2 separate regions of the Homo sapiens genome follow, and region 1 is linked to region 2. Evidence: fine-mapped expression QTL. A gene starts in region 2. The other region holds a variant in brackets. All regions are shown on one strand. Distances are between the middles of the regions.

Evidence for each region.
Region 1: its variant is fine-mapped to the expression of SLC25A19 in whole blood (TOPMed, PIP above 0.99).

The regions. Positions count from the first base shown.
Region 1 is chr17:75,111,003-75,123,079 of GRCh38, reverse strand. The region is part of intron 2 of ARMC7 (armadillo repeat containing 7); the gene reads right to left. Among named protein-coding and RNA genes, the nearest start is that of ARMC7, 7.1 kb to the right of the region's middle. RefSeq lists enhancers at 8,010-8,059, 8,100-8,159, 8,601-9,140. The variant A/T (reference allele first, on the strand shown) is at 7,766.
Region 2 is chr17:75,282,804-75,294,880 of GRCh38, reverse strand. SLC25A19 (solute carrier family 25 member 19) reads left to right here and starts at 5,448. Exons shown (of 8, transcript NM_001126121.2): 1 at 5,448-5,527; 2 at 6,290-6,379; 3 at 8,079-8,248; 4 at 8,422-8,577; 5 at 11,288-11,458. The coding sequence starts at 8,117. RefSeq lists a silencer at 155-344 and enhancers at 4,940-4,989, 5,030-5,079, 5,170-5,369, 5,802-6,303.

The sequences.
Region 1 (12,077 bases), 170 kb after region 2:
GCGACAGAGTGAGACTTCACCTCAAAAATTAAAAAAAAAAAAAAAAAGTGTCCAAAGAATAATTCATGTTAGAAAATGCCTGTAATTTAAGATGAAGGAGGGAAGAAGGACACCAGATTGTACATACAATAAGATAGGCCCGCTAAGACGCCACCTCCTCTAAGAGCTTTCTGTGAGCACCTAACCTGCCCCCCCACCACGCCCCCCTCACCAGGCTTTGCTTCTTTCCTTCACACTTACTGACATTACAGTAGTTATTTGTCAAAATATTGGCTGTTGCTCCACTAAACTATAAACTCCGTGAGAATGGGGACTCTGCCTTGTCTCATTCTCTATCAGCAGCCTCGCATTAGCAGGTGTTTAATAAATAGGAAAACGTTATCTCTACAGATATTCTTTTAAAAATTAAAAAAGCCAGGGCCAGGCACAGTGGCTCACTCCTGTAATCCCAGCACTTTGGGTGGTGAGGCAGGAGGATCACCTGAGGTCAGGAGTTCAAGACTAGCCTTGCCAACATGGTGAAACCCCATCTCTACTAAAAATACAAAAAATTAGCTGGGCGTGGTGGCACACGCCCGTAGTCCCAGCTACTCGAGAAGCTGAGGCAGGAGAATCGCTTGAACCCAGGAGGCGGAGGTTGCGGTGAGCCGAGATCACTCCACTGCACTCCAGCCTGGGCAACAAGAGTGAAACCCCGTCAAAAATAATAATAATAATAATTTTAAAAGATATTATTCTTTTTTGTTTTTGTTTTGAGACGGAGTTTTGCTCTGTCGCCCAGGCTGGAGTGCAGTGGCGCAATCTCGGCTCACTGCATCCTCCACCTCCGGGGTTCTCTGCCTCAGCCTCCCGAGTAGCTGGGATTACAGGCGCCCGTCAACATGCCCGACTAATTTCCTTTTGTATTTTTAGTAGAGATGGGGTTTCACCATCTTGGCCTGGCTTATCTTGAACTCCTGACCCTGTGATCCACCTGCCTCGCCCTCCCAAAGTGCTGGGATTATAGGCGTGAGCCACCACACCTGGCCAGATGTTATTCTTTTTTAAAAGCTGAATTTCACTGAGATAGGAGAATAACTCATCAAACGACACCATTAACACAGTAAAAAGGCAAAAGGAGAAAACATTCACTGACTATCCATCTGACAGAACGCTGGTATCCAGAACACATCAAGAACTCCTGCATATCAATAAAAGATGAACAACCCAATTTTGAAAATGAGCAAAAAGACTTAAACAAAGTCTTCTTTGCAAAAGGGCCAAAACATATGGAACTGTGCTCATTACGTATCAGAGAAATAAAAAGTATAACCACAAGAACATGCCACTACACACTCAACATAATAGCAAAAATAAAAAACACTGCTGCTGCGTGCAGTGGCTCACACCTGTAATCCCAGCACTTTGGGAGGCCGAGGAGGGTGGATCACTTGAGGTCAGGAGTTCCAGACCAGCCTGGCCAACATGGCGAAAACCTGTCTCTACTAAAAATACAAAAATTAGCTAGGCATGGTGGCCTACACATGCAACCTCAGCTACTCCGGAGGCTGAGGTGGGAGAATTGCTTGAACCCAGGAGGCGGAGGTTGCAGCAAGACGAGATTGTGCCAACTGTGCTCCAGCGTAGGCGACAGAGCGAGACTCCATCTCAAAAACAAACAAAAAAAGGCCAATACTAAGTGTTGGCAAGGAAGTGGAGCATATAGCATAACCTGGTGTAACTACGTGGAAAGTGATTTGGCAGCTTCTCATGACGTTAAACGCACATCTACCCTAGGACTGAGCAACTCCACTCCTAGGTGAGAGAAATGAGTACATATTTGTATGAACATGATCCTAACAGCTTCATTCATAAAGCTTCTAAACTAGAAACAATTCAAATCTCCGTCTACAGGCAGATGCATGAACAAATTGTGGCACATCCAAAGGAATGGATGATACTGCAATAATTTGGATGAATCTGAAAAACATAATGTTGAGTGAAAGAAATCAGATACGAGAGTAGATCCTGCATGGTTCTGTTTGTATGAAGTTCAAGAACAGGCAAAGCAAATCCACAGGATAGAGGTTAGAATAGTGGTTGCCTTGGAGTGGGAGATACTGACCCAGCGTGGGTGTGAAGGGAGTTTCTACGTCTTGGTTTAGGAGCTGCTTACATGGATGTACACATAGCTCAATGAATTTCAAAATTCACCAAACTGACACTTAAGATATGTGCATTTTATTCTGTTGATCATACTGCAATCTTTTTTTTTTTTTTTTTTTTTGAGACCGAGTCTTGCTCTGTCGCCCAGGCTGGAGTGCAGTGGTGCGATCTCAGCTCACTGCAATCTCCGCCTCCCAGGTTCAAGTGATTCTCCTGCCTCAGCCTCCTGAGTAGCTGGGACTACAGGTGCCCGCCACCATGCCCAGCTAATTTTTTGTATTTTTAGTAGAGATGGGGTTTCACCGTATTAGCCAGGATGGTCTTGATCTCCTGACCTCGTGATCCGCCCGCCTCGGCCTCCCAAAGTGCTGGGATTACAGGCCTGAGCCACCGTGCCCAGCCACCATACTGCAGTCTTAAAAATCGTTATAAAACAGAAAGGAGAACAAGTTCCGACTTCCTGATGAACATGCTCTGCACAAGACAGAGAGAAAACAAGAAGCAAGGGCAGGGCCTTCCAGACATCAGGACACACAGGAACTCTACACGAGAACCCTGGAGAGGCAAAAGAGGAAACCCCACATGAAAGCAAGATGAGAAAGCCGGAGACTCAGGGAGGTCAGGTGGGTGACCTCAGCTCACACGCCATGTTGGGCACTGGTGCAGGGAGGGACAACCTGGACCATGAAGGGAAGGTTGAAGGATGGTCCCAGGGATTAAATGAGGTGATGCTGGCCGGGCGTGGGGGCTCATGCCTGTAATCCCAGCACTTTGGGAGGCCGAGGGTGGATCACCTGAGGTCAGGAGTTCAAGACCACCCTGGCCAACATGGCAAAACTCCATCTCTACTAAAAATACAAAAATTAGCTGGGCATGGTGGCACTCACCTGTAGTCCCAGCTACTTGGGAGGCTGAGGCAGGAGAATGGCTTGAACTTGGGAGGCGGAGGTTGCAATGAGCCCAGATCATGCCACTGCACTCCAGCCTGGTCAACAGGGCGAGACTCCATCTCAAAAACAAAACAAAACGAGGTGATGCTTCTGACAAGTGCTTAGCTGGCACCTGGCACCTGGTGGCTGGGCAGGCCCTCGGCAAGGGCAGCTCAAAATACAGCTACATCTGGGGACTCGCCCATGCTGAGCTGAAGCAGCCCAGGGTCAAAGTCTTCACAGCAGGCTGGGCGTGGTGGCTCACGCCTGTAATCCTAGCACTTTGAGAGGGCCGAGGCAGGCGGATCACAAGGTCAGGAAATCGAGACCATCCTGGCTAACACGGTGAAACCCTGTCTCTACTAAAAAAAAAAAAAAATACAAAAAAAATTAGCTGGGCGTGGTAGCGGGTGCCTGTAGTCCCAGCTGCTGGGAAGGCTGAGGCAGGAGAATGGCGTGAACCCGGGAGGCGGAGCTTGCAGTGAGTCGAGATCGCGCCACTGCACTCCAGCCTGGGCGACAGAGCGAAACTCCGTCTCAAAAAAAAAAAAAGAAAAAACTGTATCACAGGGTATTTTCAGAAGTCTCACCACCATTCTGGTCCCTTCTACCTTGTTCCCTGCCTCGTACTAACCCATTTCCTTATTACACTTTTGTGTCTTGCCAGCGTGAGTGCATACACAGAGGTGTGTTCATCTCCACCCTGCCTTCTCACACAAAGGGTAGCTTACTCTATGTACTGTCTGTCCTTCAGACTTGAAATTGAAGGAGCCATTTTCAAGACACTGAAGGAAAACCCAAGAACAAATAATCCCCTGTGAATAGTCCAGTGTACCAGTCCAGTGTACCAGTGTACCAGTGTACAGTCCAGTGTACCAGTGTCATAGAGGAACTGCCACTGGGGCTGGGTGCAGTGGCTCATGCCTGTAATCCTAGCACTTTGGGAGGCTGGGGTCGGAGGATCACTTGAGCCCAGGAGTTTGAGGCCAGAACAAGGGACTAGAGTCTGAGCCTGGTGCCAGCTGGGTTCCCAGGGCACAGAATTTGGATCCTGGATGACAGGGGCGAAGTCCTGGCTCCAGTTATCACTAACAGCGGGAGCCCCAGGCAGTGGACTTGCCCTCACTTGGTGGTGGGGGTTCCCGATATGTACAAAGGGGTTAGAACCATCGGCCTTGCCGTTCATGACCGATTCAGAGGCCTTGTGGACAGGCTGGTTCAGGTGGGCGTGTGGCGAGCACATGGTGTGCACTGGGCGGGCATCCAGGAGAGGCAGCTTTTATCCCAACAGCACCCAAACAGGAGCCCTGGACCCTGGGCAGAAAAGGCAGCCAGAAGCACAGAAAGGGTCAATAAACTAGTTCTACAATTGCTCTAAATGGGCAGATCCACAAGAGGCCACAAAAGAGGCCAGAGACTTGAAAACCCGTGCGTGTTCTCCGCGGTCGCTGTAGCCGGATCCTTCCTCATGGCTGTGGCGGTGCCGACGGCGGGCAACTGAGAGGAAGCCACAGGAGAAAGAGACCGCCACACAGAGACGACGGTGAGTGAGGCCAGGCCCCTGTTGGCAAGTGGTTGCTGCCACTGTAGTTCCACTGCCACCGCTGATGGGAACACTTGAGGCCAGACTGAAGCCCTGGCTGACATGGAGAGAGAGCAGGGGCTTCTCTAGGGGCCTGCAGGCCCCCAAGCATGGAAATAAAGGAAAATCTTGAGTCCCTTCATGAAATTCCAGGCACCTAGCTAGCCCTGAGAAGCAAGTGAGCAACTCGATAAGCAAGAAGGTAATAGTTAGCTTAAAACAATAGCCAAGGAAGTCAGAATCAGGGGATGTCTGGTTTCCCCATAGAAACTAAAGATAACTTTGTTTTTTTTTTTTTTTTGAGACAGTCTTGCTTTGTCGCCCATGCTGGAGTGCAGTGGCACGATCTTGGCTCACTGTAACCTCTGCCTGCCTCCTGGGTTCAAGCGATTCTCCTGCCTCAGCTTCCAGAGTAGCTGGGATTACAGGCTCCTGCCACCACACCCAGCTAGATTTTGTATTTTTAGTAGAGACGGGGTTTCACCATGTTGGCCAGGCTGGTCTTGAACTCCTGAGCTCAAGTGATCCACCCGCCTCAGCCTCCCAAAGTGCTGGGATTACAGGTGTGAGCCACCACACCCGGCCTAAAGATAACATCTTAATATCTGTCCTTGAGTTGCTTTTCAGAAATCTGGACCCTCAACAAACAATTCCCCTGGCACTGAGACCTCAGATAAGGGGAACTGAAAACTACACTCTGACCACTCTTTAGACTCCCTGAGGGGCCTGGAGGACATGCCCACAGGTTATAGCTAACATTCTTTTTTGCTGATGCCAAATTTGTAGACAAAGCTTCACCTCCTTAACCACTCACAAATCAGAAAATCTTTGAAGCCACCTATGATCTGTGCCCCATCCCTTGGAGACATCCTGCCTTCTTAGGCCAAACCAATATATAGCCTCCTGGTGTTGATTTAAAACTTTGTCTGTAACCTCTGCCTCCTGCCTTTGAACACCCTTAACCATAAGCCATCTGGGAATTTGGGTCTTAAGCATGAGCTGCCGGATTCTTCTTGCTTGTCGCCCCACAATAAAGGCCTCACTTTTGGCTGGGCACAGTGGCTCACGCCTGTAATCCCAGCACTTTGGGAGGCCGAGGCGGGCGGATCACCTGAGGTGAGGAGTTCGAGATCAGCCTGGCCAACATGTCGAAACCCCGTCTCTACTAAACATACAAAAATTAGCTGGGTGTGGTGGCGGGTGCTTGTAATCCCAGCTACTCAGGAGGCTGAGGCAGGAGAATTGCTTGAACCAGGTAGGCGGAGGTTGCAGTGAGACGAGATTGCACCATTGCACTCCAACCTGGGCAACGGAGTGAGAATCTGTCTCAAAAAAACCAAAACCAAAAACAAAAACAAAGCCTCACTTTCTCACTGCGATTTTTGTCAGTAATTGGCCTTAGTGTGCAGGGTGAGCGAATCCATTTGTTTGGATAGCATCCAGCTTCCAGCCCTCAGAGAGGAGGCAGAAGTGCTGGGCCAAAGAGCAGACCTCACTCAGAGCTGCCACAGCAAAGCCAGCATGGAAGGGTACCTGTGAGTGTGGTGGCTGCAGGGACAGACGGAAGGAAGCCTGCATTCTCATCCTGGCCTGCGACAGCCAGACGAGGGGCAGCTGTCTGCACCGCAGCTTCCTTATTGATAAAATGAGCAATTTGGAGTAAACTCCTTTCTCGCTTTCGCTCCACAATCCTAGGAATTGGAACTCCTCTAAGGGCAGGAAAAGGGCCAAGGGACTAGCTTGTAGACTCTGACTGCTCTGGGTTTAAGTCTCAGGTCTGGTACTCTTTATTTATTTTGAGACGGAGTTTCACTCTTGTTGCCCAGGCTGGAGTGCAATGGCGTGATCTTGGCTCACCTCAACCTCCACCTCCTCGGTTCAAGCGATTCTCCTGCCTCAGCCTCCTGAGTAGCTGGGATTACAGGCGCGTGCCACCGCACCCAGCTAATTGTATTTTTAGTAGAGATGGGGTTTCTCCATGTTGGTCAGGCTGGTCTCGAACTCCCGACCTCCGGTGATCTGCCCACTTCGGCCTCCCAAAGTGCTGGGATTACAAGCGTCAGCCACCATGCCCGGCCTAGGTCTGGTACTCTTTAAACCTTTGGCCAGCCCACAGAACCTCTCTAAGCCTCAGAGTCCTGATTGGAAAGAAGGCGGTGTAAGCACATCTACTTTAGTACTATGTCCAATGCACAAGATGCAAGCGCCTGGCATGCAGTGGGTGCTCCCCAAGTGTGAGCTAATGCCATCCGTGATGGGGGCACAACAGCACCGGGCCTGCAGCCAGGCTCTCCCCACCTGACATTGCCTGGGCACCCTCTGGGAGGCTGAGGATCGGTGTTCCTGTCATTCCGTGATGTTTTTCCAGAAGGTAAGAATTCCTGGAGCAGATGAGTGATTCCCTTGATAGGACGTTATCCCATCCCGCACCTCACCTCTCTGGGACAAGGGGCGACAGCTCACCCTCAAAGGGTTTTGGGTATTTGTCTTTGGATGGCAACCAAGGGAATCCTATCTATGGCTGCAGACACTAACCCTAAAAGAGCACTGTGGTGTTTCATTTAATTCTCTCAACTGATGTGAAGCAGCTACTGGCACTGTCCCCATCTGACAGATGATTGGAGGAGAGAGAGCCCACACCCAGATGCCTGCCTGACCCCAGGGCCCAGCTCTCATCCAACTCACTGTGCTGCCTGCCAACAAGCAGATACTTGTTTTGTTTGTTTTTGTAGGGACAGGGTTTTGCTATGTTGCCCAGGCTGCTCTTGACCTCCTGGGGGCTCAAGCAATCCTCTTGCTTCAGCCTCCCAGAATGCTGGGATTACAGGTATGAACCACCCTGCTCAACCAAGCAGACAATGGTTTTGGTTCCTTTTTTTTTTTATGGAGACAGAGTCTTGCTCTGTCACCCAGGCTGGAGTGCAGTGGCGTGATCTTGGCTCACTGCAACCTCTGTCTCCTGGTTCAAGCAACTCTTCTGCCTCAGCCTCCGAGTAGCTGGGACTACAGGTGTGCGCCACCACACCCAACTAATTTTTGTATTTTTAGTAGAGACGGGGTTTTGCCATGTTGGCCAGGCTGGTCTCGAACTCCTGACCTCAAGTGATCC[A/T]CCCCCCTCGGCCTCCCAAATGGGATTACAGGTGTGAGCCACCATACCCAGCTTGGTTTTGGTTCTGCGAGCCACAGCCATGGGCAATCTGACTCAGCTCTCCACTGTGCCAGTCCTTCCAGAACCAACCCTGCTCAGGGGTGTTGCACCAAGTCATGGCCAGGACTCCACACCTATTAAGTGAAGATCTCCTGCCTTTTCTTCCCCTTCTTTCCTCCTCCCTAGGCCAAAAGGCCTAAGCACTCAAACCATGCAGACAGAAGTAAGGCTGGCTCTGGCTCAGGGAGATCACAATCTCAGGGCTGCCACATCGGATAAAAGACTCAAAGCTCCAAAGCGCAGCACAGAGCCTTCTCCAGAAACAGCAGAATAAGTGCCTGTCGGGGATCCCCAAGCAGAGACACTAAGAGAAAGGGAAACGACGGCAGTAAGAAAATACGCGGGGGCTCTCCTTCTCAGTCATGCATAATAAACACAAGAGAAATTTCGAGAAATTTCATTTGCATGTTGAAATTTCATTGCAACATGGTCCCACGGAGGGATTCGACGCTGAGAAAGCTACTGTGCTTGGGGCGGGGGGGTCTTGCTGTGGCAGAAGAAGGAAGAGAAAAAAAGGAGGAAAAAAATGGTTGGGAAAAGTAAAGCTGGTGATAATGATCCTAACAATTCTAAAATACCTGCACAGAGACACAGATGCACAGACACACTTCTGCTCCCACAACTGCTTGCGACGCAGGCAAGGCGGGAGAGGAAACCACGCTCGGAGAAGGGACGGGACTCAGCTTCTAGGAATCAGCTGAGAAGTGGAGACGCTGGGACCGCGGACTCCAGGACCCGGGCTCAGTCACCCACGCCGGGAAGCTGCCCAGGATGGCAAGAACCCAGCCCAGGCCCACGCCGCCCCCATAGCTCAGTGGACCCGGACCTCAGGGTGCCCCTGTCCTGGGAAAGTTGCTTCCTGACCCTGAGGAAACGCCAGCAGGAAAGACTCCACTTGGTAAACACTTTTGGTGGGGACTGCTCTGTGACTTCCGCCAATTTTTCTCCAGGGGCAGCAGCTTGATTTGGAGGAGCTCTATCGCCCCCTGGTGGAGATTTAGCCACATGCTTCTGCAGGGGCCACCGTCACCGTTCAGACTGCAGCAGCTGTGGGGGCAGAGGCACGAAAAGGGACGGGACGGAGGACGTTTTAGAGACCAACTTTTTAGAATATTTGTTTGGCATAATAATCTTCTAGAGGAGCTGGCATCACTCGGGGACCTGGGCAACTGGGGCTCCTGCCCTGGCTTGGCTTTAGCAGGCCCCACTCTGGTCCTCTGTGGGGCAGTAAGTCCAGGGAGCTCACCCAAAGCCCACAGCCGTCCTTCCCCTGCACCTGGAGCTCCAGGCCCTAAACCTGCTCCCACGGCTGCATGGGCCTCTCTCTTGGATCCTGACTCCCAGGAGTGAATGCCACTGTTGGTGTGTGCACTTCCAAACCCAGGGAGTGGCCAAGGGGCAGCTGTCTGTGGGGGTGTGAATCCGCACACACATGTGCTGGAGCCCCCTCATGGAGAGAAGACCCTCATTTGTAGTCTGGCCCCAGGAATCTCCTCTCCTCTTTAGAGGAGACCTGGATGGTCTTTGAAAAATTTGAATCACACTTATCATAATGTATTTTTGCCGGGCGCGGTGGCTCACGCCTGTAATCCCAGCACTTTGGGAGGCCGAGGCGGGCAGATCACGAGGTCAGGAGATTGAGCCCATCCTGGCTAACACGGTGAAACCCCGTCTCTACTAAAAGTACAAAAAATTAGCCGGGCCTGGTGGGGGGGCGCCTGTAATCCCAGCTACTTGGGAGGCTGAGGCAGGAGAATGGCGTGAACCCGGGAGGCGGAGCTTGCAGTGAGCCGAGATCGCGCCACTGCACTCCAGCCTGGGCGACAGAGCAAGACTCCATCTCAAAAAAAAAAATAAATAAATAAAAAGTATTTTTAAAAATGTGTTAGTTGGGCCAGGTGTGGTGGCTCACGACTGTAACCCCAGCACTTTGGGAGGCTGAGGCGGGCGGATCACCTGAGGTCAGGAGTTTGAGACCAGCCTGGCCAACACGGTGAAACCCCGTCTCTACTAAAAACACAAAAATTAGCCGGGCGTGGTGGCGGGCGCCTATAATCCCATACCCGGGAGGCTGAAGCAGGAGAACTGTCTGAACCCAGGAGGCAGAGGTTGCAGTGAGCTGAGATTGCACCACCGCATTCCAGCCTGGGCGACAGAGCAAGACTCCATCTCAAAAAATAAAATAAAATAAAATAAAATAAAATAAAAAATGTGTTATTTGATCCTATCAAGACATTCAACCCAATTTCTGGATTATAGGAAATAAAGGGGATAAAGAAACCACAAAGAGGCAATGAGACAAACCGGAAGGGGGAACATTTGCATTCCTGGTTGGGGCCTTCGAGAATCAGTGTTATGAAATGAGGGTCTGTTTAGGGTTACAAGGGATTTATTTCTTGGGGCCAGGAGTTCGAGACCAGTCTGGGCAACACAGTGAGATCCTGTCACAACAAAAAATTAAAAAAAAAAAAAATTAGCTGGGCATGGTGGTGCACACCTGTAGTCACAGCTACTCGGGAGGCTAAGGCAGGAAGACTGCTTGAGCCCAGGAGTTCAAGTTTATGGTGAGCTATGATCACACCACTGCACTCCAGCCTAAGTGACAGAGTGAGACCCTATCTCAAAAAAAAAAAAAAAAAAAAGAAAAAGAGAATAAAAAGAGAGATTTAAGATAATTTATGTAGTGACTTCCTTCCAATGGGTATCATACGTAAAGAGGGGAAAGAAAGAGTAATTTTACAGTGGAGAAGCCTGACAAGACTTCAGCCAGGTGACTACGCGCGTGTTGGCCAGGCTGCAGTGCAGTGGCTATTCACAGGTGCAATCGTGCAATCACAGCACACGACAGCCTCAAATTCCTGGGCTCAAGCGATCCTCTTGAGTATCTGGGACTACAGGTGGGCACTGCATTGCTTGAAAAAGGAATTTTTGTTTGTTCTCAAAATTTTGTTTGCTTCAAACTATTTCCCACGGCCTAGATCTAAACTCCTGCAAGCTCTGGTGCCACTGAACTCTCTAAACTCTTTTTGTGCCATTCTCCACTTCACTGCAACGATCCTCCCACATCAGCCTTCCGTCTGGCTCCTTCCTGTTTTAAGGCCTTTGCCCATGCTGTGTCCCGGCTAAAATGCCTTTCTCATGATGGCCAAAACTGAAGTAACCCCCACCTTCCACTGCTGTCTCTCATCACCCCATTTACTTCCTTCTGAGCATCATCTTTTTTGTTTGCTAACCACCTGTCCCCCCTACTAGAATGTAAGCTCCTGAGGGGCAAAGACCTTTCCCTAAGCTGTTCACCATACTCCAGCATTTAGAGCAGTAGCTTGCATATACGGTACACGCGCAATAAATATCTACCCAGTGAATAACTCAATAGGTCTTAAGATCATAACAACTACAGAAGCCATAAGTTACAGACTGCAAGCCATCTCTGCTTCTCTTGATATGAAAACACTAAATATGAGTTATTTTTGTTTTTGAGACAGATTCTCGTTTTGTCACCCAGGCTGGAGTACAGTGGCCCAATCCCAGCTCACTGCAGCCTTGACCTCCCAGGCTTAAGCAATCCTCCCACCTCAGCCTCCTGAGTAGCTGGGACACCACGCCAGACTAATTTTTTTTTTTTTTTTTTTAAAGCAGAGATGGGGTTTTGTCATGTTGCCCAGGCTGGTCTTGAACTCCGGAACTCAAGTGATCTCCCTGCTTCGGCCTCACAAAGTGCTGAGATTAAAGGTGTGAGCCACCTCACCCGCCTGAAATTGCTTTTTTTTTTGAGACAGAGTCTCACTGTTGCCCAGGCTGGGGTGCGGTGGTGCCATCTTGGCTCACTACAACCTCTGCCTACCGGGTTCAAGCGATTCTCCTGCCTCAGCCTCCCAAGTAGCTGGGATTACAGGCGCCCACCACCATGCCCGGCTAATTTTTGTATTTTTAGTTAGAGATGGGGTTTCACCATGTTGGCCAGGCTGATCTTGAACTCCTGACCTCAGGTGATCCGCCCACCTCAGCCTCCCAAAGTGCTGGTGCTGGTATTACAGGTGTGTGCCACCGCGCCCGGCTACAAAACTGCTCTTTTTAAAACATATTTTTTTGAGACATGGTCTCACTCTGTCGCCCAGGCTGGAGTGCAGTAGCACAATCTCAGCTCACTTCGGCCTCTGCCTCCCAGACTCAAGCAATACCTCCTGCTTCAGTCTCCAGAGTAGCTGGGCCT
Region 2 (12,077 bases):
CAGGCATGAGTCACTGCACCAAGCCCACCTTAACATCTTTTTTTTTTTTGAGATGGAGTCTCACTCTTGCCACCCAGGCTGGAGTGCAGTAGTGTGATCTCAGCTCACTGCAACCTCCGCCTCCTGGGTTCAAGTGATTCTCCTGCTTCAGCCTCCTGAGTAGCTGGGATAACAGACACCTGCCACCATGCCCAGCTAATTTTTGTACTTTTAGTAGAGACGGGGTTTCACCATGTTGGCCAGGTTGGTCTTGAACTTCTGACCTTAGGTGACCCATTCACCTCGGCCTCCCAAAGTGCTGGTATTACAGGCGTGAGCCATCGTGCCCGGCAACACCTTTAACTATCTTTTTCCTGTGTGGACAATGCTTATCATTACTTGCATTGAGTGAAAAAAGAAAAAAGGTCATCATTTTGTGTACACATGAACTGATTTTCAACAAACATGAACAGAGCAGTTTAGTGGAGAAAGAATAGACTTTTCAACAAAAACAGAGTTCCATGTACTAGAACAATTAAATATCCAAGTACAAGAAAAAAACCTTCAATATCTCATACCAAACAAAAAATAACTAAAAATGGATCAGAGACCTAGATGTAAAACCTAAAACTATAAAATTTCTATTAGAAAACATAGGAGAAAATCTTTATAACCTTTGACTAGGCAAAGATTTCTTTGGTAAAGGCCAGGCATGGTGGCTTACACCTGTAATCCCAGGACTTTGGGAGGCCCAGGAGTTTAAGACCAGCCTGAGCAGCATAGGGAGATCCTATGCTGTCTCTACCAAAAATTAAGGCCAGGCACGGTGGCTCATGCCTGTAATCCTAGCACTTTGGGAGGCTGAAGCAGGCAAATCACTTGAGGTCAGGGGTTTCACAATGTTGGCCAGGCTGGTCTCAAACTCCTGACCTCAAGATGACCAACCCAGCTTGGCCTCCCAAAGTGCTGGTACAGGTGTGGGCCACCGCATCTGGCCAGGAACCAATTCTTTTTTGAGACACGATGGCTGCAAACATCACAAAATGACAGACAAGCAGGCATTATGGTGTTCCTCATGGAAATACACAACACCATGTAAGTAGTCTCATTTAAAAAAAAAAAAAAAAAAAAAAAAAACGTTGGCCGGGCGCCGTGGCTCATGCCTGTAATCCTAGCACTTTGGGAGGCTGAGGCAGGTGGATCACCTGAGGTCAGGAGTTCGAGACCAGCCTGACCAACATGGTGAAATCCCATCTCTACTAAAAATACAAAAATTAGCCGGGCATGGTGGAGGGCATCTGTAATCCCAGCTACTCAGGAGGCTGAGGCAAGAGAATTGCTTGAACCCAGGAGGCAGAGGTTGCAGTGAACCAAGATTGTGCCACTGCACTCCAGCCTGGGCAACAGAGCGAGACTGTCTTTACAAAAAAAAAAATCAGGCCAGGCACAGTGGCTCATGCCTGTAATCCCAGCACTTTGGAAGGGCAAAGTGGGCAGATCACTTGAGGTCAGGAGTTTGAGACAAGCCTGGCCAATGTGGTGAAACGTCATCTCCACTAAAAGTACAAAAATTAGCCAGGTTTGGTGGCATGTGCCTGTAGTACCAGCTACTCAGGAGGCTGAGGCAGGAGAGTCGCTTGAACCCTGGAGGCGGAGGTTGCAGTGAGCCAAGATCACACTACTGTATGACTGTACTCCAGCCTGGACAACACAGCAAGATTCTGTCTAAAAAAAAAAAAAAAAAAAGGCTGGGCGCAGTGGCTCACGTCTGTAATCCCAGCACTTCGGGAGGCCAAGGCGGGCAGATCATGAGGTCAGGAATTTGAGACCAGCCCAACCAACATGGTGAAACAACCCCGTCTCTACTAAAAATACGAAAATTAGCTGGGCGAGGTGGCACATGCCTGTAATCACGACTACTCAGGAGGCTGAAGCAGGAGAATCGCTTGAACTCAGGAGGCGGAGTTTGCAGCGAGCTGCGATTGCGCCACTGCACTCCAGCCTGGAGGACAGAGTGAGACTCTGTCTCAAAAAATAAAGAAATAAATTTTAAAAATCAGGCCAGGTTCAGTGGCTGACACCTGTAATCCTAGCACTTTGGGAGGCTGAAGCAGACAGATTGCCTGAGCTCAGGAGTTCAAGACTGCCATGGGCAACATGGCAAAACCCCGTCTCTACAAAAAATACAAAAAATTAGCTGGGTGTGGTGGCGCGTGCCTGTAGTCCCAGCTACTAGGGGCTGAGGCAGAAGGATAGCTTGACCCCAAGAGGTAGAGGCTGCAGTGAGCTGAGATCGTGTCACTGCACTCTAGCCTGGGAGACAAAGTGAGACCTTATCTAAAAAAAAAAAAAGTCAAACCCAGTCTAATCAAACCTTTTAGATCTAATTACCAATTAGCAGAGAACACAAGGGACATAGGGGCCAGGTGTGGTGGCTCACGCCTGTAATCCCAGCACTTCGGGAGGCCAAAGCAGGCAGATCAGCTGAGGTCAGGAGTTCGAGACCAGCCTGGCCAACATGGTGAAACCTCATCTCTACTAAAAATACAAAAATTAGCTGGACATGATGGCGGGTGCCTGTAATCCCAGCTACTTGGGAGGCTGAGGCTGGAGAATCCCTTGAACCCAGGAGGCACAGGTTGCAGTGAGCCGAGATTGCACCATTGCACCACAGCCTGGACAACTGAGTGAGACTTTGTCTCAAAAACAGCAACAACAACAACAAACAAACAAACAAAAAACACAAGGGACACAGGAAGATGTGGAAACAACTCCATGGGGATGCGATCAGCAAAATCCAGACTAGGGAAAATGCCACAGCATAAACCACTTAATTTCTTTCTTTTAAAAAATGTATTATTTAGTTTTTGTAGAGATGGAGTGTCGCTATGTTTCCCAGGCTGGAGCACAGTGGCTATTCACAGGCACTATTTTTGCACACTACAGCTTTGAACTTCTGGGCTCAAGGGATCCTCCTCCCTCAGTCTCCCTAATATTGGGAATACAGGTGTGCACCCCCAGCCTGGCTCTATCTAGTTTCTTAAAAAAAAACAAATATAATAAAATAGAGAAAGAAAGGAAAATGAAAGGAAATGAAAGAAAACAAATTTCAAGTAAAAAAAAAGTAAAGTGGAGAAAAACAATAGATTTTTAAAAGGACTTCCAGTTGCAATGTTCAGTTCAGATCTCAACTCTTTTTCTTTTCTTTGAGACGGAGTCTCACTCTGTTGCCCAGGCTGGAGTGCAGTGGCACGATCTCGGCTCACTGTAACCTCTCCCTCCCAGGTTCAAGTGATCCTCCTGCCTCAGCCTCCCAAGTAGCTGGAATTACAAGCGCCTACCACCATGCCTGGCTAATTTTTGTATTTTTAGTAGAGACGCGGTTTCACATGTTGGTCAGGCTGGTCTTGAACTCCTGACCTCAAGCAATCCACCCACCTCAGCCTCCCAGTGCTGGGATTACAGGTGTGAGCCACTGCACCCAACCAAGATCTCAATTCAGACAAACATTTTTGTTTGTTTTCTGAGCTCTGTCACTTAGAAAAGCAAACTTGTGGCTGGGTATGGTGGCTGACGCTTGTAATCCCAGCACTTTGGGAGGCCGAGGCGGGCAGATCACGAGGTCAGGAGATCGAGACCACGGTGAAACCCCATCTCTACTAAAAATACAAAAAATTAGCCGGGCGTGGTGGCGGGCGCCTGTAGTCCCAGCTACTTGGAGAGGCTGAGGCAGGAGAATGGCGTGAACCCGGGAGGCGGAGCTTGCAGTGAGCCAAGATCGCGCCACTGCACTCCAGCCTGGGGGACAGAGCTAGACTCCGTCTCAAAAAAAAAAGAAAGAAAAGCAAACAACTTGTTTTAAGAAGGACATTTCAGCCAGGCACGGTGGCTCACACCTGTAATCCCAGAACCTTGGGAGGCCGAGCTGGGTGGATCACTTGAGGTCAGGAGTTCAAAACTAGCCTGGCCAACATGGTGAAACCCCGTTTCTACTAAAACTACAAAAATTAGCTGGGTATGGTGGTGCAGGCCTGTAGTCCCAGCTACTCAGGAGGCTGAAGCAGGAGAATCACCTGAACCCGGGAGGTGGAGGTTGCACCGAGCCGAGATCGTGCCACTGCATTCCAGCCTGGGTGACAGAGTGAGACTCTTGTCTCAAAAAAAAAAAAAAAGTTTGAGACCAGACTGACCAACATGGCAAAACCCCATCTCTACTAAAGATACAAAAAATTAGCTGGGCATAGTGGTGCACGCGTGTAATCCCAGCTACTCGGGAGGCTGAGGCAGGAGAATCGTGTGAACCCCAGAGGCAAAGGTTGCAGTGAGCTGAAATAGCACCATTGCACTCCAGCCTGGGCGACAAGAGCAAAACTGTCTCAAAAAAAAAAAAAAAAAAAAAAAAAAAAAAAAAAAAAAAAAAAGAAGAACATTTCTTTCTTTCAGAAAAGTGTAAACACTAATTCATATTTGATATTAAAAGTTTTTTTGGGGGGTCGGAGTGACAGTTTTGTGTGTGTGTGAAGCATAATGTATACGTATTAAAAAGGGAATGCTTGTCCTTTAAAGACACATACTGAAATATTTACTGGTGAAAACACGTGATGGTATTTACTTCAGAATAACGCTGGGCAGCGCGTGCGAGGTAGGTGCAGAAATAGAGGAAACAAGATTGCCCCATGAGTCGCGTAACTGCTGAGGTCGGAGAGCGACTCTACGCGGCTTCATCGGGTTATTCCACTTCTGTGTATCTTGAAATTTTCTACAATAAAAATGTCTTAAAATTGTGCGTCAAAATGATAACACGAATATAAAAATGCAATTAAAAAGTCAGGAGGCAATACTGTCGCGCAAAACCGTGACGCTAGTTGTGTGCGGGCGGTAGGATGAGTCATTTCCTCCTTCCTTTCTATATTTTCTGTCTATATACTTTTAATATTACTTTTATAATGAGAAATACTAAAACTCGGGGTGAGAGGGGGGGACACTCGTGTTTTTGCCTTCCCCGTCCCCGAGGGGACTGTTCTCATCTATTCTCTTCCCGACGTCCTCCAGCTTTTTGCTAGGCTTCCTGCCATCTTTACCAAGTTGAGATTATCCGGGTTCTGGCATTAACAGAGTTTGAGGAAAGCGGGTCAAGTCTACCGCGCCCTAACCTTGGACCCCGCCTGCAGGCTGACTTTCGAGTCACACGCCAGAGCACGGCGACCCCTAAGGTCGCAGCCCGGCTTCGCAAGGCACCTCCTTCTAACGCGTCGGTCGAACTCGCGCGCCCGCGAGCAGCCGGACTACATCTCCCAGGAAGCTGTGCGCCGTCCAGCTGTCCTGCCCTTGGTCGCGAAGGACTACATTACCCGGTGATATCTTGCGGGAGGCGGTTGCCAGACCTCAAGCGCACAACCATTGGTCCAGCGTCTGGCGGGGAGCTGCACGGTGATTGGCCCAGGAGCCCGCCAGTTTCGTCCGAGCTCAGTAGAGTTTTGCTGTTAAGACTGCGCGAGGAGCTAGAGAGAGCGGAGAGCGCTGAGCCGGGCCGCACCCGCCGAGCCGTGTGAGTAACCTCTACCTCCGTCCTTCTCGCCGCCCTCTCGGGGACCAGCACCCTCGCTCCTCAGGGTGGTCGGGAGGGAGCACACGCACCCGGGCGCTCACGAGAGGGCGGGGACTGTGTACACACGTGTCACACCAGACCAGAGAAGCATCTCCAGGGACACCGGCGGCCGAGCCCCGCGCACGCCCTTGAGCACCTGAGCTCCAGGGCGTCCCCTCGGACTCAAGGAGAAAAAACACACCCCGAGGCACACGTGGACACCTAGGTACCCACACGGGGACCTCTGCAGATTTGCTCAGCTGAGCCCTTGGGCACATGGGCACCCGAACACCAGGAAGAGCCTGGTATGCTCCGGTCTCCTGACAGCGATCCAGGACACCTGCCACTCGGGCTTGCTCCTCCTTTCTGCCCAGATGGGCGGGAAACACGCTGCTCAGTGTGACCTGAGCGGTCCCTGGGTAACCCCTGGAGAGGTTTTGCCTCTCAGTCGCTTGCCGCGTGTTTAAACTTCCTCATGGGCGCCTGGGGAGGAGTTCCAGGGTGGGTGAGAGGAGAAAAGGAATTGATGTCTGGGGTGGAGGCTGCCATCCTGTAGGTAGTATCTCCCCTCCTCCCCCACCCCCACCCCCACTACTACAAGTATTCAAGAACTAGGGTAATTCTGAAGGCTAGTTTTAGGGATTTTTTTTTTTTTTTTTTGCCATAACAAATTCAAACAGTATAGAATTATCGACAGGTCTACCTTCCTTTTTCCCTTCTCAGCCCTTCTCCCTGTGATCAGTTACCAACTACCTGTTGATGTGTGTGGTTACAGACTTCTTTCTATGCTTTGTACAACTCTACAGACCGTATGTAGGTATTACTGTTTTTGTTTTTTGTTTTTACAAAAAAGGAAAAAAGTACATCTCCTGGAAGGGATGCTTTTTAGCTGAGCTCTGGTGGATGAGAGGAGCTAGCCTTGAAAAAGTGAGTAGGGGCTGAGAGTGGGGCTGTATTTCAGACGTAGGGAACTGGAGGAGTAGAGGCAAGGCAATTGATAGGAGTGCTCCCCGAGTTTTCCAGGAACTGGGCAGAAGCAGTCAGACCACTCTGGTTAAATGAGGGAAGGGGAAGAGTGGTCCAGAGTGAGGCTGAAGAGGTCAGTAGGTCTGAGTCAGGGGAGCCCAGGAGCGTCATTTTCTTTTTTGTTTTGTTTTGTTTTTTTGTTTTTGAGACGGAGTCTCACTCTGTAGCCCAGGCTGGAGTGCAATGGCGTGATTTCAGCTCACTGCAACCTCTGCCTCCCAGGCTCACGTGATTCTCCCTCCTCAGCCTCCCAAGTAACTGGGATTACAGGCGCCCACCACGACACCCAGATAATTTTTGTATTTTTATTAGAGACAGGGTTTCACCATGTTGGCCAGACTGGTCTTGAACTCCTGACCTCAGGCGATCCACCCGCCTCGGCCTCCCAAAGTGCTGGGATTACAGGCGTGAGCCACGGTGCCTGGCCAGGAGCATCATTTGCTAGCGTAGCATGGCCCCACTGTGCCGGGGTGGTCTGAGGTGTGTGCAGGAGGGGAAAGGGAAAGGTGAAGGGGCTCAGGGCCTCAGGGCTCTTCCTTTGGACAGTGGGGGATTGTTAAAGAATCCCAATCCCTGTTCTCCAGCCCTGCACGTCCTTCAGTCCCTCAGCGTTACACTTGAGTGGGCTCACTCAGTGAGCAGGAGTTTGCTATAAAGTTGCCAGATGTCTTGGAAAACCAGTTGATCTCTGGGACCAACAATTGCCTATCAAGCCTGTTCATTCGATTCTCAAATATTATTAAGCACTTACCATGATGGGCTCTATTCCAGGAACCGGAAATTTACGAGTGAACAAATGAGACCAAGGTCGTGTTTCCACGGGCTTACATTCTAGTCAGGGAGAGAGACAAGAAACAAATGTACTGTATAAATAACCCATGGCGTGCCGGGCGCTGTGGCTCATGCATGTAATCTCAGCAATTCAGGAGGCTGAGGCAGGAGAATCACTTGAGGCCAGGAGTTCGAGACCAGCCAGGGCAACATTGAGACCTTATCTCTACAAAAATAAAAAACTTAGCCAGGCCTGCACCTGTTAAGTGACAGCTAATTGGGAGGCTGAGGCAAGAGAATCACTTGAGCCCAGGAGTTCAAGGCTATGGTGAGTTATGATGGCACCACTGCATTCCAGCCTGGGCAACAGAGTGAGACCCTGTCTCTAAAAAAGTAAACAAATATGCCATAGTAATAAGTACTGTAAAGAGGAATAAAACAAGTGCTATTTTATTTTATTTTTAAATTTTTGTATTTTTTGTAGAGTTGGGGTTTTGCAGTGTTGCCCAGGCTGGTCTTGAACTCCTGAGCTCAAGCAATCCACCCACCTCGGCCTCCGAAAGTGCTGGGATACAGGCATGAACCGCTGCGCCCAGTCCAAAAGTGAGTGCTATTTTAGACAGTCTAGTCAGGGAGGGCTGCTCTGAGGAGGTGATATTTGAGCAGAGACCATAAGAAACTTGCCTGGTGTTTATTCCGTATCTCTTGCATTTAGCTTGATACTGATGGACATTGTGTGGGCCAGAGGCAGGGATGGTTGGCTATGACCCCAAACCAGATGGCAGGAATAACACCAAGTTCCAGGTGGCAGTGGCTGGGTCTGTGTCTGGACTTGTTACTCGGGCGCTGATCAGTCCCTTCGACGTCATCAAGATCCGTTTCCAGGTACTCTTCCCCTTTTTCCATGCAATGGACTGGAGGACAAGTTCAGTCTTTCTTGCAAAAGCAGTTCCTAAAACTTGGAATTCTATCCAGATGAAGGGCTTGCCTTTTCTGAAAGTTCCCCTTCACATTCCAGCCCACCCCACTGTCCTGACCTTTTTTATTTTGATTCCTAGCTTCAGCATGAGCGCCTGTCTCGCAGTGACCCCAGCGCAAAGTACCATGGCATCCTCCAGGCCTCTAGGCAGATTCTGCAGGAGGAGGGTCCGACAGCTTTCTGGAAAGGACACGTCCCAGCTCAGATTCTCTCCATAGGCTATGGAGCTGTCCAAGTAGGTGGCAAGGGACCTGGCCAGACCTCTGGGGTCACGTTGCTCAGTGGAGGAGCAGAGGGAGGGTGAGGCAAGCAGGAATGCCGCGCAGGGCAGGACGGAAGAGGCAGGCCCCACGCTTCCCACCTGCCTCACCCGGGAGCCTTCCTGACCAGCAGTACCGTAGGCATTGCCCTCCGCCATGTCCCTGCGTCTATCCTGTGTGACTTAGGTGTTGCATCTTGGAGACCGATTTGATGTCATGCCTTCTGTGAGGCTTGGCGAAGGACAGCACTAATGCATTTCAGTTTTTGAAATACCACCTTCACATATGTGGTTCATCTGAACTTCACCACACCGTCATGAGGAGGGCAGGGTAGCTGTCATGTGGATCTCAGGGAGGAGAAGTCAGCTGTCCGAGGCCACACAGCCTGCACATGGCGGGGCTAGGGTTAGAACTCATGCTTCGTTCAGTGGAGCACTAGTATAGTCATAGTGCACAGCATGTGATTTTATGCAGTAGATGTGTTTAAGAACCAGCCCTGTACAGTGCAAACCATGGGCCAGGCCCCTGTTGGAAGCACTTCACATACACTCTGTCACAGCAGTCCTTAAGGTAGGGGCTGTTGTCCCTCCCATGTCATGCATGAGAAGACTGAGGTGGACAGAGCTTACATAATTAACCCAACCAAAGCCACTGGCTAGAAAATGGCAGAGCCACGACCCCCACCTAGGCAGCTAGTGCCAGAGATGTCCCTTCCTACTCTTCCTGTGACATCACAGTGACCGCCCAAGTCAGGTGCTTACTGGCTGGGCATGCCCTGCGATCCTGTCTCTGCACTTGTCTGCAAACAGATATTGCAGCATGACGAATAAATACAGCAACAGGATAGTCTCAAGAAGCCAGGCGTGGGCTGGACTCAGTGGCTCACACCTGTAATCCCAGCATCTGAGCCCGGGAGGCGGAGGCTGCAGTGAGCCACGATCATGCCACTGCACTTCAGCCTGGGCAACACAGCCAGACCCTGTCTCAAAAAAAGAAAAGAAGCCAGGCCATCTTCAGTTGGCTGAAGGAAGATCTGAGCATAGCCCTGGTATAGTGGCTCACACCTGTAATCCCATCACTTTGGGAGGCTGAGGTGGGAGGATGGCTTGAGCTCAGGAGTTTGAGACCAGCCTGGGCAACATTAGGGAGACCTCCTCTCTACTAAAAATAAAAAATAAATTAGCCAGATATGGTGGTACACACCTGTCGTCCCAGCTATTCCAGAGGCAGGAGAATAATTTGAGCTAGAGAAGTCAAGGCTGCTGTGAACTGTGATCGAGCCACTGCACTCCAGCCTGGGCAACTGAGCACGACCTTGCCTCAAAAAGCAAAACAGGGCCAAGCTCGGTGGCTCATGTGTGTAATCTCAGCCCTTTGGGAGCCCAAGGCGGGCAGATTGCTTGAGCTCAGGAGTTTGAGACCAGCCTTGGCAACATAGTGAAACCCTGGTTCTACAAAAAATACCAAAATTAGCTGGACATGGTGGCATGCGCCTGTAATCCCAGCTACTTGAGGAGCTGAGGTGAGAGGATCACTGGAGCCCAGGAGGTTGAGGCTGCAGTGAGCCGTGTTTGTGCCACTGTACTCCAGCCTGGGTGACAGAGAGACACTCTTGTCCCTAAAAAAAAAAAAAAAAAAAAAAAAAGAAAGATCTGAATGTAAGGGGGTCACCCTGTGGAACATGCTCCCAAAAGAATCTGCCCCAGAAAAGAATGATTCTCGAACAGTGCCGCCACCAGGTGCCGCCGCCAGCTGCACTGAAGGGGTCCCTGCAGGAATCAGAGCATGGCCGTCTTCCCCAGTTCTCAGAAAACTAAGTTAGCCAGTGACATTTTCTGATATACATTGTTCTCATGTATCTTTTTTATTTTTTCTTGAGACAGAGTCTCACTCTGTTGCCCAGGCTGGAGTGCAGTGGCGCAATCTCAGCTCACTGCAACCTCCGCCTCCTGGGTTCAGGCGATTCTTCTGCCTCAGCCTCCCAAGTAGCTGGGGTTACAGGCCCACGCCACCATGCCTGGCTAATTTTTGTATTTTTAGTAGAGACAGGGTTCCACCATATTGGCCAGGCTGGTCTCCAACTCCTGACCTCATGATCTGCCCACCTCGGCCTTCCAAAGTGCTGGGATTACAGGCGTGGGCCACTGCACCCAGTCTTTTTTTTGAGACCGAGTCTTGCTCTGTCGCCCGGGCTGGAGAGCGCAGTGGCATGATCTTGGCTCAGTGCAGCTCTGCCTCCCGGGTTCAAGTGATTCTCCTGCCTCAGCCCCCCAAGTACCTGGGACTACAGGTGCCCGCCACCATGCCTGACTAATTTTTGTATTTTTAGTAAAGACAGGGTTTCACTATGTTGACCCGGCTGGTCTCGAACTTGTGACCTCGTGATCTGCCCGCCTCGGCCCCCCAGAGTGCTGGGATTACAAGTGTGAGCCACTGCACCTGGCCCCCATATATCTTCTTAACCCTTTGAGTGTCTGACTCTACTCAAGTATCAAATGGCATCCGAGTTTTGCGTAGAATGTTGTATTTATCATATGCTGTCACTGCTCAAGAAGAACATTTCCTGACCTTTTCCTCGCCCCTCCACCTGGGCCCCAGCCGGGTCACGGGTGATGTATTTGGGGAGTATTTGGTCCTCACCCTCATCCTTTGGGCTGTCGGTGACTTCTTCACTTACTCTTGCAGTTCTTGTCATTTGAAATGCTGACGGAGCTGGTCCACAGAGGCAGCGTGTATGACGCCCGGGAATTCTCAGTGCACTTTGTATGTGGTGGCCTGGCTGCCTGTATGGCCACCCTCACTGTGCACCCCGTGGATGTTCTGCGCACCCGCTTTGCAGCTCAGGGTGAGCCCAAGGTGAGTGGCCAGGAGCCAGACCGGGGAAGCCCAAATAAGGAAGGTGTTGTCACAGGGGTAGCATTCTTTATTTTTTATTTATTTATTTATTTATTTTTGTTTTGTTCTGTTTTGTTTTGTTTGAGACAGAATCTCGCTCTGTCATGCAGGCTGGAGTGCAGTGGTGCGATCTTGGCTTACTGCAAGCTCCACCTCCCGAGTTCAAGCGATTCTCCTGCCTCAGCCTCCCGAGTAGCTGGGATTACAGGCACCCGCCACCACGCCTGGCTAATTTTTTTTGTATTTTTAGTAGAGACGGGGTTTCACCATGTTAGCCAGGATGGTCTCGATCTCCTGACCTCACGATCCGCCCGCCTCGGCCTCCCAAAGTGCTAGGATTACAGGCATGAGCCACTGCGCCCGGCCTATTTTTTATTTATTTATTTATTTATTTTGAGACAGAGTCTCGCTCTGTTGCCAGGCTGGAGTGCAGTGGTGCGATCTATTTTTTTCTTTTATTTGATAAGCATGTTTTTTTTAAATATATGATTTTTATTTTTATTTTTATTTTTAGTTATTTATTTATTTTTTTTGAGACAGAGTCTCACTCTGTCGCCCGGGCTGGAGTGCAGTGGCACAG